Homo sapiens: one gene and its partners. The protein of the gene in region 1 interacts with the protein of each later gene in a pairwise test. Each region holds a gene or a part of one and is shown on either strand. Other genes may lie near its edges. The genes, in order: CYCS, COA7, BRWD1 and APAF1.

Region 1 (4,766 bases):
GGTTGCAGTAGAGATCATAAGCCAGGTGAAGTGCCCAGTGAGTAATGGTCTAGAAGTACACAGATGACAGCAAAAGGTCCAAAGGTCCATGCAGATGTCAGAAACCTCACACAAGTAGCTCTGCCTGTGAGAGAAGAGTGATGATTTGGAAGATGCCAAGACTACATGGCCTCTTTTGTGGACTGTGTGGAAGCAGTCTCTATTTGTGAGGGCTGAGAAGTTCATGGGCCTGGAGAAAGCCCTGTTTCTATTAACAAAGTGTGTACATTCTGTAAAGAGGCTAAAAGAGATGACCCAGTTTATGTGGCGTTTTAGAAGGCACGGAGGAAGGGTTGGTGTCAGTACATGTGGTACTGCTAACGAGGAAGTGTATCTGTGTGACCTTTAGCAGTAACAACCTCTGAGCCTGTCCCCAGTGCCTTTTGAGGTGCTGAGGATGAATTGAGATATGAACGCACTTTATAACTACAAAGCAATTTAAGTTCAGGGACTAGAATTTGGGCAAAACGTCATGCTGAAGTATGTGGGTTATCAAGAGATTATTACAGCTACACATACATAACGATGTTTATGTCTGTTTCATTCTATGTGAATGTGAAACTAACAAACTGAGGGAAGTGAGAAAATAAGAGCAGTCAAGTGTGTCAGATGTCACACAGATTGAGTCAATTGAGAATAGAAAATATCGACAAATAGGTTCTTGCTAACCTTGGAAGTAGTGACTTTTCACTATGTGACTTTCAAGGAATTTGACATAGATATGAACAAATTTTTCTGTGCTTGCCAGTTACAGGCATTCACACATCATTCAGTGAATCTTTTGAGGTGCTTATTCCCATTCTCCACAAATACAACGTTGTGTTAATCAGATTGATAAAGCAAAGCTCTAAACACAGAACTGAGAAACTCTGTAAAATGCCACACTAAATATTTTAGGCTTTGTCACAACCACTAACCTCTAATGTTGTAGCCCAAAGCAGCCCTAAACAATACACTAACGAATGTGACTGTGATCCAATAAAGTTTTTTTTCTTGAGACGGAGTCTTGCTCTGTTGCCCAAGCTGGAGTGCAGTGGTGTGATCTTGGCTCACTGCAACCTCTGCCTCTCAGGTTGAAGCGATTCTCCTGCCTCAGCCTCCGAGTAGCTGGATTTCAGGTGCCCACCGCCCCCCACCCCTAGGTAATTTTTGTATTTTAGTAGAGACGGGCTTTCACCATGTTGGTCAGGCTGGTCTCAAACTCCTGACCTTGTGATCCATCTGCCCTGTCCTCCCAAAGTGCTGGGATTACAGGCATAAGCCACTGCACCAAGCCCAATAAAGTTCTCTTTACAAAAACAGGCATCTGGTCAGATTGGGTCCACGGGCTGTTTATTGATACACACTAAACACAATTTTCTCCTAATCCTAGACCCAGCATTTTCTGCATTACACTAGCCCAGTGGTCCTTTCTGAAACTACACTGTTCAAGTTACAGACATATTTAAATGTTTAAATTTAAAATGTTAAATTTAACATTTTAACATGTTTAAATGTTCATAGACACATACAACCTGCACTTTTACTCTTTGAGAAATGAATGCAGTAAATTTACTTAGCTTTCTGAGGGAAATGATAGCCTGAAGGCATGACGTTTTCAAATACCCCAAACTCCAACTAAGATAACCTGGAACCTATTAAATGGATATCCAACATTTTGTACTGAACTCTAAGGATATGAACACCAGGACAATGGTTATTCTGAGGCACAGAAAATACAGCCAAAGCAGCAGCTCAGTATGTACCCCGACAGTGCCTAGAAGAGACTTATGTGGGAGACAAAGTTTCTGGTCAGGTGTATTTGTATACTTCATCAGGCATATGCCTTGCATTACATAGCTCTCGCCCCCAACTTGGCAACATCTTATTGGTTTTCAGAATATACTGATGACGGATTGCCAAAAGAGCTCATGAATGAATATTTTCCATTCTAAGGAAACTTTTTTTCTTTTTGAGACGGAGTTTCACTATTGTTGCCCAGGCTGGAGTGCGATGGGGCGGTCTTGGCTCACTGCAACCCCCATCTCCCAGGTTCAAGCGATTCTCCTGCCTCAGCCTCTCAAATAGCTGCAATTACAGGTGCCGCCACCACGCCCAGCTAGTTTTTATATTTTTGGTAGAGATGGGGTTTCACCATGTTGGCCAGGCTGGTCTCAAGCTCCTGACCTCAGGTGATCTGCCTGCCTTGGCCTCCCAAAGTGCTGGGATTGCAGGCATGACCTACTGCACCCAGACCACTTTTTTTTTTTTTAAAAGAGATGGAGTTTCCTTTATCTGTTGCCCAGGCTGGAGTGCAGTAGCACAATCACAGCTACACTGCAGCCTCGAACTTCTGGGCACAAGCAGTCCTCCTGCCTCAGAGTGGCTGGGACTACAGGTGTGCACCACGACGCCCAGTTATCTAGTTTACTCTTACCCAAGTATAAATGATATGAAACAATCTGAGACTAGTCAGTCAACTGTCCTTGGTAAGATCTCCTTCTTGACAGCCATGTGGATTCTATCACACCCTTTATAATTTACAGCAATCTTCAGTGGTTAAAGCAAAACTGTACATCTATAAAGGAATTCAAGAGAAGTGCAGGAAAAGGATGACAAAAGGTAAATCCCTAGCTACCACCAGAATGTTATCTATCTAAAACTGCCAACTTACGAATAGGTAAAACTTATGGTAAAATTATAAAGGTGAGCACAACAGGAACTGGAATCTATTCTGAAGGGCAATATAATGTACTTCCAAGAATTCTAGATTTTTTTTTTTTTTTGGAGACAGTTTCACTCGTCACCCAGGCTTGAGTGCAGTGGCACAATCTTGGCTCACTGCAACCTCCACCTCCCAAGTTCAAGTGATTCTTGTGCCTCAGCCTCCCAAGTAGCTGAGATTACAGGTGCCCACCACCACACCTGGCTAATTTTTATGTTTTTTGTAGAGACAGGGTTTCGCCATGTTGACCAGGCTGGTCTCAAACGCCTGACCTCAAGTGATCTGCCTGCCTTGGCCTCCCAAAGTGCTGGGATTACAGGCATGAGCGACCATGCCCGGCTAATTCTAGATTTAATAGAGTAAAGAGAAAGTACTTTTGTTACAGACCACTGGTTCTAGTCCTAGACCCAGAATGTCAATACAGTAGCCACTAGCCACTTGTGCCTATGTAAATTTAAAATAAAATACTTTCTAGTCACACTAGCTATATTTCAAGGGCTTAACAGCCACATGTGGTTAGTGGCTACCACACTGGACAGCAAAAGTCTACAAAATATCCATCGTCACAGAAAGTTCTATTAGACAGCACTGTTCTAGACAAAATAAGCATGTAGGTGGCATCTGAATACCCCTTAAATACATCTGGCCCTTGTTTTTGATTCTACCAACCTAGCCACTTACAGCGAAGCACTAGAAATGAAAACATGTGGTTTATAGTGCTCTTTTTTTCCCCTATTTCCTTATTTCTGAAGGTATATATCCCTGATAGAAATGTCCTTTTTAAAAAATTACATAATTGGCCAGGCGTGGTGGCTCACGCCTGTAATCCCAGCACTTTGGGAGGCCGAGGCAGGTAGATCACCTGACGTCGGGAGTTCAAGACCAGCCTGTCCAGCATGGAGAAACCCTGTCTCTACTAAAAACACAAAATAAGCTGGGCATGGTGGCGCATGCTTGTAATCCCAGCTACTTGAGAGGCTGAGTCAGGAGAATCGCTTGAACCTGGAAGGCGGAGGTTGCGGTGAGCAGCGATCACGCCATTGCACTCCAGCCTGGGCAACAAGAGTGAAATTATCTCAAAAAAATAAAAATAAAAAAGTTACAGAATCACATTTTAAACCACCAGAAGTGCTTGGGTATAACTGACCTAGAACATGGCAGTTACTCATCTGTGCCAACACAGACCTTAATATAGGAGGCATAGAAATGAGAAAAATTGGCCGGACGTGGTGGCTCACACCTGTAATCCTAGAACTTTGGGAGGCCAAGGTGGGTGGATCACGAGGTCAGGAGTCCAAGACCAGTCTGGCCAACATGGTGAAACACCATCTCCACTAAAAATACAAAAATTAGCCAGGCGTGGTGGCGGGTGCCTGTAATCCCAGCTACTCAGGAGGCTGAGGCAGGAGAATCACTTGCAACTGGAAGGCGGAGGTTGCAGTGAGATTGCACCACTGTACTCAGCCTGGGCGAAAAGGGCGAAACTCCGTCTCAGAAAAAATAAATGAGAAAAATTTTAAACCTGAAAAAAAATTAAACCTAAGTTACTACTGGGCTGATTACTTCTGGGTTAAATAATAAGATTTCTGAATTTGAAAACCAGGCAGGGCCTGGTGGCTCACGCCTGTAATCCCAGCACTTTGGGGAGCCAAGGCAAGTGGACGGATTGCTTGAGCTCAGGAGTTTGAGACCAGCCTGGGACCACATGGCAAAACTCCATCTCTACAAAAAAATTAGCTGGGCATGGTGGCGAACACCTGTAGTCCCAGCTACTTGGGAAGCTGAAGTGAGAGAATCGCTTGAGCCTGGGAAATAGAGGTTGCAGCCAGCCGAGATCGCACCACTGCACTCCAGCCTTGGCGACACAGCGTGACCATGTCTCAAAAAACAAACTAAACGCCACAACTAGCCAAGATGGAAGGTTGAACACATTTCTGTATCTATCTTAATATGTTTCCTGTATCATTTCCAGGATGCCAAAAAAAAAAAAAATCAACTCTCTAGCCTTCACTTCAGGTCTTTC
Region 2 (8,221 bases), on another chromosome or scaffold:
CGTAACATAGACCATAACACAACCATATACATATCATAACATAGTCATGACACAGAGTTGCTCTGCAGTATGATGGCTTGAAAAGAACCTGGGGTTGGGCCGGGCACAGTGGCTCACGCCTGTAATCCCAGCACTTTGGGAGGCTGAGGTGGGCAGATCACCTGAGGACAGGAGTTCAAGACCAGCCTGACCAATATGATTAAACTGTCTCTACTAAAAATACAAAAATTAGCCGGACGTGGTGGCATGCGCCTGTAATCCCAGCTACTCGGGAGGCTGAGACAGGAGAATGGCTTGAACCTGGGAGGCGGAGGTTGCAGTGAGCTGAGATCGCGCCATCACACTCCAGCCTGGGCAACAAGAGTGAAACAACGTCTCAAAAAAAAGAACCTGGGGTTGTTCTTTGAGAGCTGGTCCATGTCCTAAGTATAGAAAGAACTTAGAGGAATTGGGGTCACTAAGGAACAGGGTGGTTAGGGAAGACTTTGAGGGGAGGTCTGGAGGGCTGGGCAAGTGTTGATTAAATGGAGGAGAGGGTGGGAGAAGAAAGTGCTATCTTTTGGAAGGTTGAAGTCAGGATTTAGTACGTTTGAAGCGGGAGTCTGGCCCACAGTATGTCAGGGCTTGAATGCCAGGGTAAGGAATATAGACTTTGCTCTGTAGGCAATGGAGAGCAAAACATGTCTGAGAAGCAAGTTCTTGGAATTGGGAAGGGTGGATATATCAAAAGGACTGGCTGCAGCACTTTACGAGACCTGAGAAGAGGCTATAGTTACCGTAGCGACTGGTGTAGTAGTTCCTTGCATGTCCCACTTTCTTACCTGGATAACTGAAGTCGCCTTCTAACCTGTCCCTCTCTTTGCACTTTACTCCCTTAAAATCCATTTCTACTCGCAGATAAACTGATATTTTAATTTCAATTTTGTTATGTTAAATATTAGATTTTAAAATAACCTATTTGTTATCAATGCCCAATTATATACCCTCACATAATTAAATTCCTCCATACTCAGGCATATATGAACATATATACCAGAGTAACGTTTTTGTTGGGGGGTGGGGTTGTTTGTTTGGTTTTGGTGGCTTTTTGGTTGTTTGTTTTCTGAGACAGGGTATTACTCTGTCGCCCAGGCTGGAGTGCAGTGGTGCAATCTCAGCTCACTGCAACCTCTGCCTCCCAGGTTCAAGTACTTCTCCTGCCCCAGCCTCCCAGGTAGCTGGGATTACAGGCGTGTTCCACCACGCCTGGCTTTTTTTTTTTTTTTTTTTTTCCCTGAGGCTGAGTCTTGCTCTGTTGCCCAGGCTTGAGTACAGTGGCACGATATCAGCTCACTGCAACCTCTGCCTCCCGGGTTCAAGTGATTCTCCTGCCTCAGCCTCCCAAGTAGCTGGAATTACAAGCGTGCGCCACCAAGCCTGGCTAATTTTTGTATTTTTAGTAGAGACGGGATTTCACCATGTTAGCCAGGCTGGTCTAGAACTCCTGACCTCGAGTGATCTACCCGCCTTGGCCTCCCAAAGTGCTGGGATTACAGGCATGAGCCACCACACCTGGCCTGAATCATATTACTTATTTTCTTGAAACCCTCCAGTGGTTTACTGTTTCAGTTGGAAAAAATCATAACTCCATCCTATGTTTCACGAGGCCTATGGTCTGGTCCCTACCTTCCTTCTTCATTTCCTGACCCTCCTCCTTGGTTCAGCCATGTTGTACCTTATTCGTGCCAAACTTATTCTTTCAGGTCTTTGTATTTACTGTTCCTTGTGCCAGGACTTTGTGCCCCTGCCCATTTTATTGTCTTTTAATTTCATTTTTTATTTTTTATTTTTAAATTTTTTCCAAATCCCTGCCCCACTCCCATTTCATTGTCTTTAAATAGCTAGTGCTTTCTTGTTATTGAGGTCACAGTCCTTGGTGAGCCCCTCCCCAGTGGCTCAGTCTTTGTTAGCCATTCACCCAAAGTTGACAGCAAACAGTTATCCTGTTTTACTTCAGTCATAGCATTTATGTATTTATTTGTATAAATTTAAGGGGTACAAGTGCAGTTTTGTTACATGGATATATTGCCTGGTTGTGAAGTCTGGGCTTTTTTTTTTTTTTTTTTTTCGAGATGGAGTTTTGCTCTTGTTGCCCAGGCTGGAGCGCAATGGCGCTATCTCGGCTCACCGCAGTCTCCGCCTCCCGAGTTGAAGTGATTCTCTGCCTCAGCCTCCCGAGTAGCTGGGATTATAGGCATGCGCCACCATGCCCGGCTAATATTTTCGTATTTTTAGTAGAGACGAGGTTTCTCAATGTTGGTCAGGCTGGTCTAGAACTCCCGACCTCAGGTGATCTGCCTGCCTCGGCCTCCCAAATTGCTGGGGAAGTCTGGGCTTTTAATGTAACCAACCATCACCCAAATAATGCACTTGTACCTGTTAGGTAATTTTTTATTCCTCACCATCCTCCCACCCTTCCCAATCTCCAGTGTCTATTATTCCACACTCCCTGTGTCCATGTGTACACAGTATTTAGCTCCCACTTATAAGTGAGGACATGCAGTATTTCACTTCCTGTTTCTGAGTTGTTATAACATTTATTACTGTTTGAATAAATTTTGTTCATTTATTTATTTATTGTATTTCCTCCCCTAGAATGTAAATTTTAGGAGGGCAAATGAGTATATTCTCAGCATCTAGAACCATGTCTGGTACATAGATGCATAGAGATGCTCAAATATTTGTTGAACGAAAATGAATGAGAGATATATGTTGTCACTGGGGGTAAAGAAGAGGGGAGAGAGATTAAGGAAAGAGGTTTACTGGGACTGGGAGACTGCCAAGGAAGTAGAGCCTATTTTCATTAGAAGCTGCCGCCTCTACTCTTTCTCTTTGGCTTTCATGTTCCTACCCTGGCTGAGGAGTAAGCTATAGTCATTACAGCACCCTTTTCTTTTTCTTTCTTTCTTTTTTTTTTTTTTTTTAAGACAGAGTCTCGTTCTGTCACCCAGGCTGGAGTGCAGTGGCGTGATCTCGGCCCGCCGCAACCTCCGCCCCCTGGGTTCAAGCGATTCTCCTGCCTTAGCCTCCCAGGTAGCTGGGATTACAGGTGTGCGCCACCACACCTGGCTAATTTTTTTATATTTTTCCACTCCTGGCTAATTTTTTTGCATTTTTAGTAGAGACAGGGTTTTACCCTGTCCAGGCTGGTCTCGAACTCCAGACCTCAAGTGATCCTCCTGCCTCAGCCTCCCCAAGTGCTGGGATTACAGGCATGAGCTACCGAGCCTGGCCCAGCACCCTTTTCTTGCTGCTACAAAGACTAGCCTATGAGCCTTTTAGGTTTTCACTGTTTTTACCATTTAACTTCATGAGAGATTCCAAAACTAGCAAAGTTTCAATCATGGAAGTCAGTGGATACTTGGGCGTGGCTGACAGGGAGCAGAAGGGCTGGTGAGTGGTAGAGCCAATGCAGGGGCTGAGGTCTCCCCAAGCCATGCATTGCTCAGTCCATGGCTGTGGGGAGACAATGCCATTTGTAGGAATGGCTAAACACCACCTACATTCTTTGTGGTAAGGCCAACTTGCCACACATCAGGAGGACAGGGGCTGTCTTAAAAGACATCACCTGGCCTGCCACACCTGGGCACCCCCTACCCCCAAGTCCCCACTGCGAGCAGCAGCCCCAGACATGAAGAACAACCCTTGCCCTCTTCTCGCAGGTTGCTATCGGCTGGTGGACTATTTGGAAGGGATCCGGAAGAATTTTGATGAGGCTGCCAAGGTGTTGAAGTTTAACTGTGAAGAGAACCAGCACAGTGATAGCTGCTACAAACTGGGGGCCTACTATGTGACTGGAAAAGGTAAGGAGGGCCTGCCTTTTGGGTCCTTGTCATTGATAGCAGTGCTGGCCTCACACCTGAGCCCCATGATAAGCTCTTGCAGAAGGGTCTCGCAGGCATTGGGAAAGTGCATTGTAGGAAGATGGAGAGGTAGGAGTTCAGCAGAGTGATGGGGGGAAGAACACAGCCTTTCAAGTTAGGTAAACCTTAGGGAATGCTATTGGCAAGTAGTGGGACCTTGAGCCAATCACTTCGACTCTGTGCCTCAGTTACATCACCTGTAAATTGGAGGGAAATAGTACTTGCTTTGTAGGGTGGTGAGGATTAAGTAGGACAGCATAGGAAAAGGCATCAGCATGTGCTTGGCACAGAGTAAGGGGTCAGTAATTATTGTCTTCCTTCTGTCTTTTCTCCTTGTACTCTAATTGTAGTTATCACTGGCATAGTGTTTACATTATCTATGGCTAAATAACAAAATAGTTATTTTTGTTCACCTCAATAGTTTCTGTGGGTCAAGAATTTGGGAGTGGTTTAGTGGGGGTACCTCAGGGTATCTCATGAGGTTATAGTCAAGACATTGGCCAGGGAGCCAGGGCTGGAGACATTGGAAGGCTTGACTGAAGTTGGAGTTTCCAATTCTAAGATGACTCACTCTGATGGCTGGTAGCAGAGGCCTCTAGTTCCTTACCAGCTGTTATTGGGAGAGCTCAGATCGTCATGACATGGTTCGCTCCATGGGCTGCTTGAGTGTCCTCATGACATGGCGTCTGGGTTCCCCCAGAGTGAGTAATTTAAAGGAGACAACAAGATAGAATCCACAGTGTCTTCTATGACCTATCTTTGGAAGTCACACACTTTTCATTTCTATCACATATTTATTAGATGTAGCCTACACTAAGGGGAAGGACTTAAATTCCACTTCTTGAAGAGGAAGGAATATTAAAGAACTTATGGACATATTTAAAACCACCACAGGCCAGGCACGGTGGCTCATGCCTGTAATCCCAGCACTTTGGGAGGCCAAGGCGGGTGGATCATGAGGTCAGGAGTTCAAGACCAGCCTGACCAACATGGTGAAACCCCATCTCTACTAAAAATACAAAAAAAAATTAGCTGGGCGTGGTGGCGCGCACCTGTAATCCCAGCTACTCAGGAGGCTGAGGCAGGAGAATCACTTGAACCCTGGAGGCAGAGGTTGCAGTGAGCTGAGATCGCGCCACTGCACTCCAGCCTGGGCAACAGAGCAAGACTCTGTCTCACAAAAAAAAAAAAAAAAACACACACACACATAAATAAGTAATAGGACCTTTGACAGGCAGCTTTTTTTTTTTTTTGTGACAGGATCTTGTTCTGTTTCTCAGACTGGAGTGCAGTGATAAAATCATAACTCACTGCAGCCTTGAGCTCCTGGGCTCAGGCAATCCTCCTGCCTCAGCCTCCCCAGTGGCTGGAACTATAGGCACGTGCCCCCATGCTTAGCTAATTTTTTATTTTTTGTAGAGACAGGATCTCACTATGTTGTCAGGCTGGTCTCAAACTCCTGGCCTCAAGCAATCCTTGCACCTTGGCCTCTCAAAGTGCTAGGGTAAGGTGTGAGCCACTGCACCTGGCCAAGGATGTCTTTTTTTTTTTGAGACAGGGTCCCGAGACAGGGTCCCACTCTGTCGCCCAGGCTGGTGTGCAGTGGCATGATCTCGGCTCACCACAACCCCCTGGCTCAAGTGATTCTCCTGCCTCAACCTTCCGAGTAGCTGGGATTACAGGGGCGTTTGCCACTACCACCCAGCTAATTTTTGTATTTTTAGTAGAGATGGGGTTTCGCCATGTTAGCCAGGCTGGTCTTGAACTAACCTCAAACGATCCACCCGCCTTGGCCTCCCAAAATGCTGGGATTACAGGTGTGAGCCACCGTGCCTGGCCCCATTTTAATTTTTTAAACTAAATTTTAGGCCAGGTGCAGTGGCTCACTTGAGCCCGGGAGGTGGAGGCTGCAGTGAGCCGAGATTGCTTCACTGCACTCCAGCCTCGGCCACAGAGCAAGACTCTGTCTCTAAATAAATAAATAAATAAATAAATAAATGTAAATAAATGAAAATAAAAATGATTCTAACCTTTTAATATTTTTTCTAAACTCTTGATAGCCCTAGTGGCTCATTTAGGAAATGTCACTATGGGCTAGAAATATTAATTTGTAGGTCAGCAGTTTCCTTAGTTTCACTTCAGTTTGGTTTTCTTCTGATAAATTCAAGTAAAATCAAAGTTAAATTTTTTACTTACAAGTAGCATTTGTGATCCAATTTTTCCAAACACTTCTATCTAGTATCCATTCAACCAGCCAGCATTTAATCTGAACACATGCTACAAAGATGACTGGAATGGTGTTCACTTAATGATAATGATGGTTATTTCTAGGTGGATTTGGAATGGTTACTTAAAAGAATAATGTTAAAATGTTTATATTTTTTGAGATTGAGTAATGGTACATGGAGATTTGAAGTTTTGCACACACACAAACAACTAAAAAAAGTGAGCCCTGCCACCACTTCTACTTAAAATTATTTGTTAGTGATTTCCCATTGTTTTTAAGATTAAATTCAGGGGTCTTAATGTGACCCTGCATGATCTGGTCCCTGCTTGCTTGCCTGCCTTGCACTATACTTTTCCTCCATGCTCTTTTTACACTTAAAATCATCTTTTTTTTTTTTTTCTTTTTTTTTTTTTGAGACAGAGTTATGCTCTGTCATCTAGGCTGGAGTGCAATGGCGCGATCTCTGCTCACTGCAAGCTCCACTTCTGGGGTTCATGCCATTCTTCTGCCTCAGCTTCCTGAGTGGCTGGCATTACAGGCCCCTGCCACCATGCCCAGCTCATTTTTTTTGTATTTTTAGTAGAGATGGGGTTTCACCATGTTGGCCAGGCTGGTCTCGAACTCCTGACCTCGTGATCCACCCGCCTCAGCCTCCCAAAGTGCTGGGATTACAGGCGTAAGCCACCGCGCCCAGCCTGATTTTTGTATTTTTGTAGAAATGGGGTTTTACCATGTTGGCCAGGCTGGTCTTGAGCCTCCTGATCTCAGGTGATCCGCCCACCTCGGCCTCCCAAAGTGCTGGGATTACAGGCGTGAGTCACCACGCCTGGCCTCCTGTGTATTTTAAATCAATTACTTAGAACAGGGGTATTCAATCTTTTTGCTTTCCTGGACCACATTGGAAGAAGAGTTGTCTTGGGCCATATATAAAATACAGTAATGATAGCTGATGAGCTTAAAAAAAAAATCACAAAAAAAATCTCATAGGCCAGGTGAAGTGGCTCACGCCTGTAATCCCAGCATTTTGGGAGGCTGAGGCGGGCGGATCATGAGGTCAGGAGTTCAAGACTAGCCTGACCAACGTGGTGAAACCCCGTCTCTACTGAAAACACAAAAATTAGCCTGGCGTGGTGGCATGCACCTGTAATCCCAGCATTTTGGGAGGCTGAGGCAGGAGAATCGCTTGAACCCTGGAGGCAGAGGTAGCAGTGAGCCAAGATCACGCCACTGCACTCCAGCCTGGGCGACACAGCAAGACTCCATCTCAAAAAAAAAAAAATAATAATAATAATAATTTCATAATGTTTTAAGAAAGTTTATGAATTTGTGTTAAGCCGCTTTCAAAGCCATCCCAGGCCCATGGGTTGGACAATCTTGACTTAGACTATCTAATACAATGTAAATACTGAGTAAATAATTGTTCTATTTTATATATTTTGTATTTTTTAATTGTATTGTTATTTTTTCCCTAATATTTTTGATGTGTGGTTGGTTGAACCCATGGATATGGAGGGCCCACTGTATGTTTAAATTAATAAACAATTAAGTGCTTGTCATATGCCATGTTCTCACTGTAACCCCATGAGGTAGATATTATTATCATTCCCAATTTTCACCTCCTTTACCTGTTTGAGTTTCCTCATAAGGTATCATCTGAATAAAAGATTCTACGGCTGAGAAAGCTAGGAGGTCTGTGCACTATGCCAGGCTACCTTTCATGCTGCCTGAGCTCATAGTATGGACATTTTTTTTTCTTTTTGAGGTAAAGTCTTGCTCTGTCACCCAGGTTGATCTCGAATTCCTGGCCTCAAGCAATCATCCTGCACAAAGTGCTAGGATTACAGGTGTGAGCCACTGTGCTCAGCCTTAAACTTTATTCAGGAATTGTTGTTGGCCAGGTGTGGTGGCTCACGCCTGTAATTCCAGCACTTTGGGAGGCCAAGGTGGGAGGATCGCTTGAGTCCCAGAGTTTAAGACTAGCCTTGGCAACATAGTGAGATCCTTTCTCTACAAAAAAATTTAAAAATTAGCCAGGCATAGTGGTTGGTGTGTGCCTGTAGTCCCAGCTACTTGGGGAGGCTGAGATGGGAAG
Region 3 (7,872 bases), on another chromosome or scaffold:
TTTCAAGCAAGAGAAAAAGGGGACATAATTTAAATGAAAATGAAAATATGCAGTAATGCAATGAAAAAACCGTTTCCTAGATTTAGTTGTACCGAAATACATGACATCGCCTGCATTTTGTGACTTTGTCAGTAGTCACGAAGGTAAGTACTACTTTGGGGTCAGAGAGAGCCTGTTGAGATAAAATCTCAAAGCTGTTAGAAACATTTTAAGATGTGGAAAGATAATCAACAAAATCATTTACATAAAATTAGTACTTAGCAGATGTACACATCTGCAAAAATAAAGTGAGTTTGGAAGCAAAATTTGAACATTTAGCAATAAAATTAAGACGAAATTGCTAGCCAGTAAGAGCTTAGGAAACTGGATATCCTTAGTGAGATAGAATAAACAAGATCACCACAATGATGTTTTAAAACATTAGGACTCCTGGGTTAACTGGTCTATTATGATGATGGAACTGCAGAATAAAAAGGTTGTTTGGGCACCACTTGTCTTAGTCCTTTTGTTAATTTGTCATTTTTACCAGTAAGATCTTCAATTTGATTTCACAGTTCCATGATGAAGAAATATTTTCTGCAAAGCAAATTACTGTAAATAGGGTAATAGTAATACATTTGGCCATGATTTAAATTCTGCACACATTTCAGAGAGAACAATTTTACAATGTTAAGTTTTAAGCAAATGCTTATTTCATGCAGTTACAATAAGTTTAGGCCAAGCACTTTTTAAAAAGGCAAATATGTTCGAATTAAATACTTAGCCAAAAAAGGATTTCATTATGCAAGACTGATAATACAATCTCAAATACTGACAGAAATTAACCCCACCACAGCAAATTATAAATTCAAAGCTTAAATTCTTTCATTACACTGAAATTGCTAAAAAAAAAAAAAAAAAAAAAAAAAAACTTTGCATAAAATAGTCTTCACCGAGTTAAGTATTTCATTTTATAGTTACTTGTTGAGGACATAATATACTCAATAAATATTATAAATTAAGTGTAAAATTTGAACTGGAAAGAAGTTTAAGCATTTCATTAGAGCTCAAAAATCAAACCCCATGCACCTAAAAGTAATAGCAGTTTATTAGGAATTCTTCCCTTTCTCACCTGTGTATCAACATATTGGGGATCAGTAATTTAGATGAAAGTATACTACAAAAGGAGCAAAGGACACAGACTTAGTAGGTTAGAATATTCTGGCTTATGCTAAAAAACAAAAAGCCTTTTTTTTAAAACAGACATGCAACCACAAATTTCTCAAGTATTTTAGACACTTGGTTCATCTGTATAACAAAAAAAAAAAAATGCATTTGACTTAAAAAAGAAATAGAAAACCCTAGGTTTCTGTAGTTTAGTTTTTCAGATTTACACATGCAAATCATATATTCAGATATTTTTAAATGGGAAAACAACTTACTTTCAACAACTTAATTTTTCCAGTAACACGTTACTATGTTAAAAAGATGCGACAGTATATTCATTTAATCTGGCAATTTTAATTTCAACAAATACATATTAACAACAAATTAAATCCTATTGTAAATACACTTCTTTGTTATACCACGACCAAATTTTCTAATCCTAGTACAGGCCACAATGAAATAGGCCAAACATGCTACCATTAAAGTTTGTTGGGATGAGATTGTAGTAAGTTTACTCAAAGTATTCAAGTTCTAATTTTTAAGGTGCTGTAGAGAAACATAAAAGATTTCACTGTATCTAAAAATATGACTGTTTTGATCTTAAGCTATACATTTTATTTTTATCTAACTGATTAAGACCTGCCTCTTAATGAGGCACATTTTTGGCATTTCTGTAAATGCTGCTACATACAAGTAAAAATAAGGAAAAGCCGTGATAGTAACATTCATAGCTTTCATAGAAAAATATATATTCCCTGAATTAGTCATATCAAGTGGTCATTCAGTATGAACTGCAATATTATAAACAAAATGACATCAATGGACTTTCTCTAATTGCCTATTTCCAACACTCTACTTCAGAACTCAATAATCAGTATCTCCAGCTGAAATTCCCAGGTCCTCCTAGTTTGTTTTTGACCTTTGGGGATGTGAATTGTAGGGAATGGATCTGGGTAGTTTTTGCTTCACTCAGAAGTCAAATAGGCCCATTAGCACTTCCTTTGGAAAAATGCCTGATTTTTTTTCCTCATGACACCATAGTTGTCGTGGTCTGAATTTTTACACTGTAATGGAGAACCCTGAAAATTAGCATCAGGTTAAGATTTTGAAATTTGTTCACTTCAAGTTCTTCCTAGCCTGTACACTTCCCATTATATTCTTCCTCTAAGGAATCATGTCTTCAAGGCCTTGCATTCTGGAAAGGAATAGTAGTCTTATAGCAGGCCATTTGTCTTTTCTTTCCACCTCTCCACCTACAGACTCTGCAATTTATTTCCTCCTCAGAATTCCCCAGAGCACATGTCTGTACAAGAGCTGACTGGGAGGAACCCACTGGATTATGGCTTTTAGAAAATTCCTCCAAAGATGCCAATAAGGGAGTAATTTTAGAGCTGGGAGCAGAATGTAACTGCCAGTTTACTTGTGTACCAATTGTTTTCAGATGCCACTTCTACATTCTCATAGTCACTATTGTGCATTTTCTTTCCAGGATCTGAACCCCCTTAAAAAAAGCATTTTTCTATTAATATCTTCTAGCTCTTTTTCACTTTCAGAATTTATGGTTGTATCATCCTCTTTATAAACATTCAGTAATTTTTTCTTAGCCGCAGCAGAAGCATTTCGATGGGGCAGTTTTCTGCTACTCTTCCTAATCCAGACATTTTCTGGTCCTGAGATCGTTTCTTTTAGATTACTCATTATCTTTATTTTATTTGCAGCAACAGTAGCACATCTGCGGGGAACTTTCTCAGGTACCATTTTTGCTTTCAGAGTTTCACTAGGCATCTGCACTGCATCCTTCTGATTATGCATACATGTTCTCACTTTTGTATTGGGTTCTCTGTCTCTAGGAACAAATTCTGAAAAATGAGTGAAAGTTCATGTAAATGCAAAAATCTTGTAACACAAGATTTTACTACTGCTAACATTCCTCAACAACACTCATTCGGAAACAATAAATTTAAAAGTCATATTGCTAAATGATAAATTTTAAAATGTGATACTAAGGGCTTCTTCACATTGATATAACCTTACATTTGCTTATCTACAACTATAAGGATGTCACTTAAAACAGTAGCAGACTTGTAAGAATGGGGTGAAAAGTTCCTTCAGCATCGGCATCATAAAGCTGCTAATCTAAAAACATATATATGAGCATTTTACATAATTTGAATTACTAAATCTTAACTTCATTGTTCCAGTATTTTCTGACCTAGGTATGTGACACACGAGATTCAGATTAAAATTCTAAAAAATAACACAGAGTTGCTTTAAGGAACCAAAAAGTGCAGAGTGCTATGAGAACACAGACTGGAAACCTAACCTAGCCTAAGGGATCAAGGAAGGCTTCCTTTAAGGAAGCTTTTAGACGAGAGGTGAAAATTGTGAAGGGATTTGCCAGACAAAAAGCACTTTGGAGAGTTAACTACTTCATGCAGACTAAGGCAGTTTTTAGAGGGGGCTTGAAATCACACTGGAGCTCTACACAGCCACATGATGCCAGAGCTACTACTCCGTGCTGACCAAACTTAGGAGGGCTCAGATATGTTTGTTACCAGTGTCTCAAAGCCAAATTTTCAAATTTCACAAACAAGTCTAATTAGTACTCTTCTAGAACAGAAGTGATATTCCTTTTACGTATCTGAAGTTCACGGGCCCTTGAATTTTAGGTCTTTCTTGCAGCCATGAACAGTCAAACTATCTAAAACTGCCTTCATGGTACACACCAATCTTGATGGCAGTTTGTTTTGTAGGACCCTGCCTGAAGTTTCCAGACATTTAGCATTCAAAAGGTAAGGCTGTAGATCACTGAAATAACCAGTTGATATCCTCCACCCACACTAGACATCTGGAGGACTCCACCACATTCTTTTTACTACTAAGTACTAGAAAATGAGAGCTCTTTTAGTCAGATACTATCAAGTAACACTATTATTCTGTAGCAATGAAACCACCAATGCCAACCTTCTGAACTTTTTCTTCTGTGAAGATGTTTGCCCTTCTGTCACAAAGCTGACTGAAGGGCAGATGAGTACAGGTAAAAACTGCTTCTGTGGACTGACATGTTCATACAGCTAGACTAATGAGGCAGGCCTCTGCCCTCACAGTGCAAGCACTTCAGATTTTTCCCTAAGTCTATGAAACTGATTTCACACTTCTCTAAGATCAGTTGAGCGTTCTCCCCAGAATAGGTTAGGAAATACTTTATTCAAAGCAACCCCACCACATACACATCAGTTCCTTTTGCCAACTAACTTATGTGATTCACATGTTTTTCCAGTGAAATTCTAAGGGCACTATGTTTTGTTCAGTGTTCAGTCTCCAGGCATTGTAAATGGCATTTTACCAGAGTAAGACACTCATCACGGCATTACTCTCATGCAGCATGCCCTTACCTCCTTCAGCTGGACTCTGTGGGAAGAGAAGTGGCTTAAAGTGCACTGTGTTTACCACTTCAAAGACACTTCTCTTGGGAATTTTAAAATTATGAACTAGTATCTCCAACAAGTCAACCCTATATCCAAAATGAATCTTTAACACATTAAATCAATGTTAGCAAATGCTAAAATGTAAATATGCTACAAAGGGTAAACAAAAATTTTAAAATATGCAAAATTAAGGTGAAATTTGCACTTTATAGTAGGATGAGAATATACTATTATCAACTAGCTGCACCATTTGCATTTGGAAGAAAAGAACAGATAACTGGTTCATTCCCAACAACCTATTCATCCAGACAAATAGATAAAATTCTATTTCAACTACAATTTGTAACAAAATGCTTTAAGTTGCAGAAATTCCATTTTGATGTGTGATCAAAGTACCTATACTGACAATTTAGGAACCTAGTAAATACTAATTCTAACACATTTTAATAAATGTTTATTTGTCATCCAGAATAATGGAAAAGTTAAGATTCTGCAGGAAAAAAAAAACTAAAATCAGGTTTTTAAAAAATACTTAAGGAAATTTGAACTTCAGTAACTATGCCCAAGGGAGGGAGAATTTGAATTACACTGTACTCTAACTTGATAAAGCTGAATCTCTTAAGTCTTAGACAATAAAACAGGAATTTCAGAGAATAAGGATAAAAACAATCTGAGGAAGACAAAACTGTGGAGAATTTTTTTAAATACATTCAAGTCAGTGTTAATTTTATTACTGAAAACTGAGTAAATTATAAAGTGCTTTTTCTCAAGAAAACTACAAACAGTTTTAGAAATATATATAGGATATTTCAGGGTTAGAAGTCAAATTTGTGTGTTAGGGTACAAGCTTAAGAACTCTGGATGTTGCTGCTCTAACAATGCATTTGTGATGGTGCCATGTGATACTAAGAAGTCAGTAGAATCCCACCAGTCCTACTGCCTCAGATGAGTCTTGTTTCAGTCATGGGTTTACAAAGTCATTGAGTGCTTGAGGACTTGTTTTCCTGGAAGTGATTCCCTACTTGGGTATGGCAAGAACACATCAGTAGTGTAAAACTGTACATCTGTAGTAGCACTCCATGATCATTTCCCTGGATGACCACTTTAAATTATAACTCACAGATATGTGTGTATTCTAAGATGGTATATGTGGTGAATAGAAACCTGGATACAAACATAACAGTTCTGACTCAACACAATCTCTAGTTTCTACATTTCAAGGATTAATCATATTCTAATTAGACTTTTTTTTAATTTTTAAGCTACCTTATTTACAGATTCTGCACAATATTTCATCATACAAAACTGTTTTCCTAAATTCAAAGTAAACTGCATATGGTTACTACAGAAGCATTATAAAATTTTCATTGGCATTTTTAAAATTGGAGCATTTAAAACAGATTTGAGAATGAGAAAAGAATGTCTGACTCAAAATGAAAACATACTAGCCTCTTTCATAAACTCCTAGAATCTTGACATTATTGGTTGCTGTGGTTGGTGGATAAATCAAATCCACAAAGTGGGTAAACCCTCTAGGTGCAAGTTATAAGCTCCCTCAAGCAAGCCTTTTATCAGAAAAGACTTGAGATATTCTCTCCTCTGTCTGCCCTTCATTGATAAGCAATGAAATGACCCCAAAACTCAGAAAGCAAATAACATTTATCAATGATCTTCATCCCTCCCAAAGCAGAAGTTTCCAAAAACATCCCATAAACTGAAGTACCCCAATGGCTGTAGAATAAAATGGTTTCTGTAACTTGCTGTGTTTTTAAACAGTTCCGTTTTCTAGGGGGAGCTGGTAACACTGCAGTATGGCAGCATCAGGTCAAAAGACCATCAGAAATAATTCCATGAACTAGTTCATTAGCTTATTCATTTTTAGGGTTCATTTACTCAATGATGGGCACCACACAACTCTGAATTTTTGTTCTTATTCTGGAACTACAACTAATCTAGCTCATCACAATACAGTTTTCTCTCACCCCTAGAAAAACTCAGATTTGTGATGGCTATTGCAATTTTTAATAAAAATCTCATAAAAGCCTTATTTTGAAATATGAATTCAGGGACTTTATACTTAACTGCTTAATTTGCTTTTTAGAAGCAATACCTTAAGAGCATTTCACACTAAATGCAGGCAGAATCAGAAGTAAATACTTGTTTTCAATCTACCCTATTACTGTACTACTGGAAAGAAACCAGGCCACAGACAATCCAATGGCAAACCCCTTTTCCAGCAGGGCTCCTGACTCGCTTCAGTTCCCCTATCCAAGCTCATATGTAAAACTCACAGCGCTCGCACCCCTATATTCTGCCTGCATGAAAAGAAATTACCAGTGGAAAAGAGGTTGGGGAACCACTTGGGACAAGTCTGGAATTAACCAGCTAGAATGTATTTGGCTTGGAGTAGTGTTTTGTTTTGTTTTTTAACTCTTTTGCTTGTTAAGATGAAAATGCTAAATTTATTATATCCCATTTAAGAACTGACAAAAATCATCTAAATGAATAGATTAATTTAGAACATTAACGATCTTATGTGAAGTGGAAAACTAAAGATCTGCTTGACAGGCTCATGTAATTTTTTGATTGGGATTTTGTAGGTGAATATATAGTTGCAGTCCAAGGACTGATTCACATTTAGAAAATTAACTTGAATATATCAAAAATTAAAGATCCCTTTAACTTTTACCCACTGATCAAAAAAGGTAATTTTTAAAATGATTTACCTTGTAAAACAAAGGGGTAGAGCTGCTACAGTCCATCTAGGCTCTATATACTGGTCATCTCATTTCAGTTAGGTCAATTGGACTGCCTCTTCTCTTTGGCAGTCTAAAATCTCATTTAAGGGCTTTAATAAATGAAAAAACTTACCTTAAAACTGACATAACTAAAATATGACCAGAAAGTATACCATAGCATTGATAATTAAATTCAAACTATTGGTCTTGCCATACTTGAGAAACAGATGTATAGTCTAATTATTTACATGTTGCCAAAGATAGAGCCTGCAGATTGGTAGAATCCAAATGATGTGACTCTCCCCCTCCCTCCATCAAATCTAGAAAAGCAATTCTTGAGCAGACACCAATTTAAAGATATTTTTCTACCAATTTAACAATATATTAGGAACCAGCTTGGCAGATTATGAAAAAGGTAAAAATCTCTTACTTTTGAGAATCCCCATGTATCCTTGGGCAACATCTCTGTAATTTAACAGCCTTTAAAACTTAAAATCGTAAGAAAAGACAACACAGCCCTTAGCATTACATACTTTACTTTTCAATCCTTACTATTCACA
Region 4 (9,048 bases), on another chromosome or scaffold:
AAAAAAATTAAGTAGTTTAGTATACAACAATGAATATGTATGCAACATAAAGTAGTGGAGACCAGTACAAGTTCTGAAATTCTAAAAATTTTTAAGGAAGTGTGGACTGCTTCAGAGAGCTTTACCTCATTTCTTACTTTTTCCTCTTCTGATATTGTTAAAAATCCATCACTAATCATGTGATCCATGATGTAGGATGTCTTGATGTCCTTTTCCAGAGCTTCTCTATGTTGAAGCAAACAATTTCGAGCTTTTGCATCCATCTTCCCTCAGATCTTTCTCTCTCTGAGCTGTCAACCATGAGCTACAGCCAAAACACCAAAATATTTGTCAGGCCAATAAAAATATGAAAAGATACATAATCTCACTAATAAACAAGAAACGTAAAAAGAACAAAACTGATTTTTTTTCCTTGGCAAAAATTTTTAAATGGACAAAACCCAGTGCTTGGAAAGGTATGAGAAAATGGCCATTCTTATGCACTAATTGGGGAAACTAGAAAATGAATGCAATTTTTCTGGAAAGCAGTAAGATATGGAATTGTTTAAAATAAGCTTTCTCTCTAACCCAGAAATCCCATTTCTAAGGATTTACTTCAAGGAGACATTCAAATACATATGTAAAAATATCCACAAGGAGAATTAATGAGTTTCCAATCAGGTGTGGTAGCTCAAGCCTATAATCCCAGCACATTGGGAGGCTAGAGTAAAAAATAAAAAGAAAAAAGAATTAATGGAGGATGTTTCAGTGATGAACGCAACCTAAATGTCCATCATTCTGAATATAGATTTTAAAAATTAGGGTATGTATATAAAATGGAATATTATGCAGCCATTCAAAATTATGACACATATCTCCATGTATTGACATGGAAAGATGTTCATAATACTGTTGCTGAAAAAAAAAAAAAAAAAAAACAGAAACATGATCCCACATACAACACATAACGTGGGGGCCGGGCGCAGTGGCTCATGCCTGTAATCCCAGCACTTTGGGAGGCCGAGGCGGGTGGATCACGAGGTCAGGAATTCAAGACCAGCCTGGCCAAGATGGTGAAACCCTGTCTCTACTAAAAATACAAAATTAGCCAGATGCAGTGGCAGGTGCCTGTAATCCCAGCTGCTCGGGAGGCTGAAGCAAGAGAACTGCTTGAACCAGGGCGGCAGAGGTTGCAGTGAGCCGAGACCACTCTACTGTACTCCAGCCTGGGCGACAGACTGAGACTCTGTCTCAAAAAAAAAAACAAGTGTTGGTATCATATGAATATATATAGACGTTTAGAAGTTTATTCATCGAAATGTTTGAGTTACTTCTGAGTAGCAAAATTTGGGATTTCTCCCCCACCTTGTCTTATTTTTTTTTTTTTTTTAGTACAGACGGGGTTTCACCATGTTGACCAGGCTGGTCTTGAATTCCTGACCTCAGGTGATCCACCCGCCACAGCCTCCGAAAGTGCTGGGATTACACTTGTGAGCCCCACCATGCCCGGCCTCTACTGTCAATTTTTTTTAGCACACATTATCATTTCTTACAATAAAATACTTCCTTTTTTAATTAAGATTGTATAAAATAGTGATTACATTGAAGTCCTAATATTAAGAGACTTCTTGTTTTCCTTATCAAACATAAGAGTGAATAGAGCATTGTTACTATTGAGTATTAGTTCTCGTTCAAGGAGGATGTCAGCTCTAGGTCCTCCTTGCTAAACACATTTCCCACAAAGCAACAGGAAACACTTTCTGATGTGATTTCTCAGACCAGGAGGACATGAGGAAAGAATAACAGCCTTTATAGTAAAATACTTGACGTTTCTAGCAACTTTATTTCAAATATAATGCAAATTTTTCCATGGGCATAAAACCCAGTTCACAATATCTGCAAGTTTTCAAAACATTAACAGAACTTTACACAATGTATAGAGTGAAAGAGTCTAAACGGGTTTATCAATTCATTCATTCAATACACATTTGTGCCCCTCCCTATATGTCAGACACCAAGACTACAGAAAAGATTGAGTCATTTGCCTGAAATAATTCACAGTCTACTCAAAGAAGAAAAAGAGAGAGAGAGTGGGAATGTGAATGCCCGAAGTGCAAAAACAGAGCACAAGTAACTTGGAGCTCACAGAAGGGGGCAATAATTATCAAGCTTCAATGACTGTTTTTGAAGTCACCAAATGTAGCACTTGGAAAAACAGGGACGGACGTAGGGCATTTGCCTATGCTTGTCAAGGCTTACAAAATGCCCAGCAGGGGCACAAAACTGATAAAAAGTTATTGATTCGAATCAAAACTCTCATTTTTTAAAATGTTAATAACGTTTTTGTCCTCTTAAACATAAAATGTTCCTTAATTTATAGTAATGAAATTCGATGTGAAAAAACAAGAATGAATGAATTTTTTAGGTGATGTCCAATAGCTAAGCAAATAAGACACTCTGGTTTTCTGAAACTAATTTCCAATTTCACCTAGTCCTGTTAAACTAAAATATGCAAATCTTAAATACGTTTTAAAACTGCACAACTTATCTGAACTAAGTCTCAAAACCTTTTGTAACCCACAACAAAATGGAAAGCCAAAACTCTTCATGGACGTAAAACAGAAAACAGCGCACGTTTATCCACGAAAACCCCAAGTTTACTACTTCCTCATTACAGAATTTCTCTTCCTGGTACAGGAGCAGGATGGTTATCAAATATTCCATGTCCTCAAATTCTCAGTCCCTGAAATCAGCTACCAAGCCTCCAAAGAACCTGGCTCGGGGAGAAAAGCGAGGAGGTCAACTTACCCAAGCCTTTGCGCCTAGGTCTTAGTGGGGAGGGCGGCACTGCCGGGACAAGACTGGGAGACTCCAGGCCGGTGGAGGGAAACGGCAACAGGAGTTTTCCACCGGGAATTAGGGGTGCAGGGCTCTGTCTCGCCACATACCCTTCGCCCCGGGGCAGGTCCGGGCCTCACAGGCGCCTCCCCTGGATCTCTGCAGCCCCGGGGCGCACGAAGACCCCCAGGGACCTCCGAAGGTTGGCGAGGTGGGCGTCCACCCAACGCAGCCTGACCCCACAGTCCCGGAGCGCCGCGGTGAGGCCCGGCCCACGGGCCGCCCTCCGGTGGACCCCACTACTGGACACAAAGGGAGGAGGTCTTCCCGGCCTGTGGCGCCCTTCCCCCGACGGCGGCTGCACCCCGGAGGGAGCCCGGCGCTACTCCGGATGCCGCTGCGGCACCTCAAGTCTTCGCGGGTCGCCGACTGCCCAGACTCCCCACCTCTGGTTCTATCCCTTTTGCCCGGGATAGAGCAGTCACGTCCACTCGCTACCTCTTCTTCTCCGCCTCTGGACAGCGGAGCAGTCAAATCCCGCCGGATCCACCCAGCCCGGACGGCGCGCGCCCGCTTATGCAAATAAACACACCCCAAGCCCCAAGGGGCGGCCACCGCTGCCGCCGCGCACTCCTGCCACGGCTCATGCCCGCGCGCGTAGAAGTGCCCGCCTACCCCGCGGACGGGGCGTGGCTAAGCCTCAGGGACGCGCCGCGTTCCCACCAATGCCGGACTCGGGCAGCGGCGGCGCGCCCGACGTGGCGCGCGCGACCCCTTCGTCCTGCCCCTCCTCCTCGGGTCCCGTCGGCCTGCGCGCGCCCGGGAGTTTGAATTTCCTCGGATTTGGAGCAATATCGCAGTGGAAGGCGCTGTGGGTTGAGGTCGCCGCCCACCTCTCCTAGGGGAACTATGGAGCTGGCAGCTGAAAGACTCAGTGAAGCAACGAGGATGCCGGGGAGAGGGAAGGGGCTGGGCTCTGGGCGGTGCCAAGTCTGTGAGGGGGCGCGGTCACCGCCCAGGGTTCCCACGAACGCCAAGGCGGCCACGTCCTGCTCCCCCTGGTGAAGAAGCTGCCCTGGGCTTGTCGTCCTAGGGTCTCCAGACATGTCTGAGGTGAAGAGCCGGAAGAAGTCGGGGCCCAAGGGAGCCCCTGCTGCGGAGCCCGGGAAGCGGAGCGAGGGCGGGAAGACCCCCGTGGCCCGGAGCAGCGGAGGCGGGGGCTGGGCAGACCCCCGAACGTGCCTGAGCCTGCTGTCGCTGGGGACGTGCCTGGGCCTGGCCTGGTAAGTGGACGCGAGGCTGCCTGGGCCGGCCTCCTGTGGGCCCCCTGCTGTTTGGGCTCCCACCCGGCTCAACATCCAGCCGGAGGTGATCCAACCTCCCAGACCTGGGCCTTCTGTGCCTCTGTCTTGACCCCAAAGGAAGGAAACAGCCCAGCCTTGTTTTTCCCTTTCGGGCGTTTCTTGTATCTCATTTCCCCCCGTGCTGGTAGCATGCCCCTATCGCTCAGAAGGAGTTGAGGCTAAGGTTTGGGAACGAGCCATTTGTTAAGAGCTGCAGATTCGGCCACGCTTTCTGAAGCTCCCGCTACACGTCAGAAGCGTTCACGTTGTTATAAACCGTTACTTCCTGTCCGCTGTGCCCCATTCCGGGACACATCTGCCCCACCCTACTCACCCCATAAATACCTAATGGAAATACTTGCAACCTTAAAACAGATCATTATGTTTGGAGACCGAGGCAGGTGGATCACTTGAGGTCAGGAGTTCGAGACTAGCCTGGCCAACATGGTGAAACCCCATCTCTACCAAAAATACGAATAATCAGCCGGGCGTGGTGGCGGGCGCCTGTAGTCCCAGTTCCTCCGGAGGCTGAGGCAGGAGAATCGCTTGAACCCGGGAGGCGGAGGTTGCTATGAGCCAAGATCGCATCACTGCACTCCAGCCTGGGCGACCGAGCGAGACTCCGTCTCAAAAAAAAAAAAAAAAGAAAACCATATCATTATGCTCCCAAAGGAGCAAACGTTATAGTAGCAGAGCTTGGAGGAGTGCTCATATTTTGATCACCGTGCATGCATTATGAATTTAAGGTCTTTTATTAAGTAAGTTACAGATTGAATATGGTAAAGCTACAAAAACATAGCACTTGTGTTCACTTAAAACTAACCAGTTGCAGTTTTAAAATCAGGTAAATGGCGATATATTGGTGTCATTAGGAAAAATGAATATTAGAAATAACCTTAAAACCAACTCGTAAAAAAAGAAAAAAGAAAAAAACCAACTTGTGAATTTTATTTTCCCAGCCTTTTTTTTTCTGGCGGGAGGAGGGAATAGCCCATTTCATTTTAATAAGATTGGCATCTTAATAGAATTTTTCTCCATTTTTCATTCATGTGTAAAGTTATTTAGTAAGACTGTTGTTAATCTTCCAGAGTGATAGAATTTTAGAAGAGACCCTGGACATCTAGACATTTTTTATGCTACTACATATGGAATTATACTTTACTGGTGACTCATCCCAAATAGTGTATTTTTCAGAGTTAAAAGATTTGTTACGGCTGGGCGCGGTGGCTCACACCTGTAATCCCAGCACTTTGGGAGGCCGAGGTGGGCAGATCATGAGGTCAGGAGTTCAAGACCAGGCTGGCCAACATGGTGAAACCCTGTCTCTACAAAAAATACAAAAATTAGCCAGGCTTGGTGGCACAAACCTGCAATCCCAGCTATTCAGGAGGCTGAGGCAGGAGAATCACTCGAAATGGGGAGGTGGAGGTTGCAGTGAGCTGGGATCGTGCCATTGCACTCCAGCCTGGGCAACAGAGCGAGACTCCATCTCAAAAAACAAACAAACAAAATTTTGTCACAATAAAGTGATTAAACGCCCTCTTCAAAAACAATAGAATTGTCAGCCTGCCGGCAGTGGCTCATGCCTGTACTCCCAGCACTTTGGGAGGCCAAGGTGGGTGGATCACCTGAGGTCAGGAGTTTGAGACCAGCCTGGCCAACATAGCAAAACCCTGTGTCTACTAAAAATACAAAAAAGCCAGGCATGGTGGCATGCTCCTGTAATCCCAGCTACTCAGGAGGCTGAGGCAGGAAAATCACTTGAACCCAAGAGGCGGAGGTTGCAGTGAGCCGAAATCGTGCCACTGCACTCCAGCCTGCAGGATGGAGCAAAACTCCTTCTCAAAAAAAAAAAAAAAAAAAGCAGATAGCATTATTTATTTTACTAATACGGAATATGTTAATTTTGATCTGAAAGGAATAAATGTACTGAATTTACTGTTTTAAATAAACGGCTCTTATGCCTTAAAATGCTTGACCTCCTTTAAGTAAATTGAAAAAAAAACCTTTTTGGGCCAGGTGCAGTGGCTTGCGCCTGTAATCCTAGCACTTTGGGAGGCCGAGGCAGGCGAATCACTTGAGGTCAGGAATTTGAGACCAGCCTGTCCAACATGGTGAAACCCTATCTCTACCAAAAACACAAAAATTAGCTGGGCCTGGTGTAATCCCAGCTACTCAGAGGTTGAGGCAGGAGAATCACTTGAACCTGGGAGGTGGAGGTTGCAGTGAGCCAAGATCTGCTACTGCACTCCAGCCTGGATAACAGAGCGAGACTTCGCCTAAATAAATAAGTAACCTTTTGTGTTTTGGGAAAGTTAGTTACTATCCTGGGATAAGCTTTAATAGAAAACTAAACTTTATGGGAATAAAATTTCCCTCACATCAGGAATTTGCTGTTAGTGATTCCTGTATTACATTGTAATGAATGTATTACATTCATTAGGAAGATTTAATTTGAACTATGTTTGCAAAATGATAACACAATGCTATATCAAAAATAATTTTGGGGGCCAGACCCAGTGGTTCATGCCTATAATCCCAACACTTTGGGAAACTGAGGCGAGAGAATTGCTTGAGGTCAGGAGTTTGAAACCAGCCTGGGAAACATAGTGAGACCGTGTCTACGAAAAATTTTTAAATATTAGCCAAGTGTGGTGGCATTCGCTGTAGTCCCAGGTACTTGGGAGGCTGAGGTGAGAAGATAGCTTGAGTCTGGGAAGTCAAAGCTGCAGTAACCCATGATTATACCACTGTGCTCCAGCCTGAGAGACAGAGCAAGACCCTGTCTCTCTAAAATGTATGTATTATATGTGTTTTTTATGGGCAGATTCTATAATTATTATTTAAATAGTTGCCTCTTAGTTGCTCTTGTGAAATCTTTTGCTGCAAAAATTGAAGCAAATGTACTTTGGTTGCTGTTTATTGCAAAATATTTATTCATAGTAAATTTTGAAATAAAAATATATCCCCATAAGACATTTGTAAACATTTTCCAGATAAAAAGCAAGTATTTGGCATCTTAAAATACTTAAAAGCTCACTAGAATTTTGACAAAGCCATTGAGATCTTTACCACTAAAACACGTAATTCAGCATCTAAAAGTCGGTCTATCAAATCTTTATTAAATGCTTTCCGTACTGACACGGCCCTGGTGGTTAAAATACAAGTGCATATGTGTGCCTGTCTGTGTACTCTTAAATACTGCTTACTCTCACTCTTCATCTGATTAAGTTGGAGGGAAAAAATCTGAACCCTTCCACTGCCCAAGAAGGATTTCAAGGAATCACACTATATCATTGTCTTCAGACCATTTCCTATGTGGAAAGAAAAGAGAAATAATACATAAGAAACTTAAAAGTGTGTTGCTTTAATATCTTCTCTCTGCTAAATAAAGGCCTGATAGGCCAGGTGTGGTGGCTCCCACCTGTAATCCCAGCACTTTGGGAGGCCGAGTTGGGCGGATCTTGAGCTCAGGAGTTCAAGACCAGCCTGGGCAACATGGTAAAACCCTGTCTCTACAAAAAATACAAAAAATTAGCCAGGCATGGTGGCGCATGCCTGTAGTCCCAGCTACTTGGGGGGTTGAGGTTGGAGGATTGCTTGAGCCCCGGAATTTGAGGTTTCAGTGAGCTTTGATTGCACCACAGCACTCAGCCTGGGTGACAAAGTGAGACCCTGCAAAAAAAAAAAGGCCTGATATATCCTATGTCATCTTGACAATAAACACTGGAGATAAGTTGCCCAAACCCATATGGCTTGAGTGTCAGTTTGCATAGCTCTTTTCTAAACTCTTATAGAAATTTTTCAGGTAAGAATTGAGGTGATTCTACTTTCAGAAAGTTAAAAAGTTGTTAAATTACTAAACAAGACACAAAACCTGTCACTCATGCTTATTTAATTACATAGAAATTTAATCAGCTGGAATTTCCATTGTGAAAATTTTGTTTCTTATGGAAACTTCAATAGATTTTTTAATTGCTTTTTTGTTTTGTTTTGTTTTGTTTTGTTTTGTTTTGTTTTGAGAGATGGAGTTTTGCTCTTGTTGCCCAGGCTGGAGTGCAGTGGCGCAATCTCAGCTCACCGCAACCTCCACCTCCACCTCCCAGGTTCAAGCAATTCTCCTGCCTCAGCCTCCCGAGTAGCTGGGATTACAGGTGTGCGCCACCACGCCCAGCTAATTTTGTATTTTTAGTAGAGACAGGGTTTCTCCATTGGTCAAGCTGGTGTCAAACTCCCAACCTCAGGTGATCTGTCCACCTCAGCCTCCCAAAGTGCTAGGATTACAGGCGTGAGCCACCGTGCCTGGCCTAAATTGCCTTTATAAAAGTTTTTTATAGTATCTGTTATAATTATGTACAAAAAGTCAAAAGCTCTTTAAGCAAGTTGTATAACTCTGGTTTTTGTTTTAATTATCCAATATAATTTTCTCTATAAATCATACTGTAAAACCTTGGCTAACTCCATTTCCAGCTTTTTTCTTTGTGTTAGTAGAGTTTTATCTAAAAGACAAGGGTATAATTTAAATGTCCTGCTTCTTAAAAATGGAATATGGTCAAGGTTTTCTTGAAAACTAGGTATTGTGCTAAAACTGAGGCTATAGATGGTATGAAACATAGGGCTAAATGGGTACTGACCCTAATAGTGGCCCTGGAACTTCTTTCCTTGCAGAAGGTCCGTAACAGCTTCCTTTGGTTATTTGCCTCTTTTTCATTATTAAGCTGAAATAGAGCCAGAGGAAATCCTGAATTTGTAAGTCCTCAGTCAGCTGTCTGCCACCATTTAACGTTCCTAAAGGAGCTATTCAGAGGCAACACACACCATTAATTACCACCATGCACTGTAGGAAAATGTAAACCATTCATTATCACAGGACCCTAGATAGATCTGT

What was found.
Region 2: the proteins of CYCS (region 1) and COA7 interact in binary tests that used the Homo sapiens proteins (3 or more experiments, as listed by UniProt).
Region 3: the proteins of CYCS (region 1) and BRWD1 interact in binary tests that used the Homo sapiens proteins (3 or more experiments, as listed by UniProt).
Region 4: the proteins of CYCS (region 1) and APAF1 interact in binary tests that used the Homo sapiens proteins (3 or more experiments, as listed by UniProt).

What each region holds. Positions count from the first base shown.
Region 1 is NC_000007.14:25,117,302-25,122,067, forward strand, and holds the end of CYCS (cytochrome c), read right to left. Parts: 3' UTR 1,355-4,766; downstream 1-1,354. UniProt on the Homo sapiens protein: Electron carrier protein. The oxidized form of the cytochrome c heme group can accept an electron from the heme group of the cytochrome c1 subunit of cytochrome reductase.
Region 2 is NC_000001.11:52,688,348-52,696,568, reverse strand, and holds part of COA7 (cytochrome c oxidase assembly factor 7), read left to right. Parts: intron 1-3,701; coding exon 3,702-3,842; intron 3,843-8,221. UniProt on the Homo sapiens protein: Required for assembly of mitochondrial respiratory chain complex I and complex IV.
Region 3 is NC_000021.9:39,184,413-39,192,284, forward strand, and holds the end of BRWD1 (bromodomain and WD repeat-containing protein 1), read right to left. Parts: 3' UTR 3,006-7,872; coding exon of another isoform or gene 2,614-3,005; 3' UTR 1,070-2,613; downstream 1-1,069. UniProt on the Homo sapiens protein: May be a transcriptional activator. May be involved in chromatin remodeling. Plays a role in the regulation of cell morphology and cytoskeletal organization. Required in the control of cell shape.
Region 4 is NC_000012.12:98,639,575-98,648,622, reverse strand, and holds the start of APAF1 (apoptotic protease-activating factor 1), read right to left. Parts: upstream 3,334-9,048; 5' UTR 2,788-3,333; intron 305-2,787; 5' UTR 264-304; coding exon 126-263; intron 1-125. Other genes in the region: IKBIP (inhibitor of nuclear factor kappa-B kinase-interacting protein), read left to right, coding at 3,922-4,100. UniProt on the Homo sapiens protein: Oligomeric Apaf-1 mediates the cytochrome c-dependent autocatalytic activation of pro-caspase-9 (Apaf-3), leading to the activation of caspase-3 and apoptosis. This activation requires ATP. Isoform 6 is less effective in inducing apoptosis.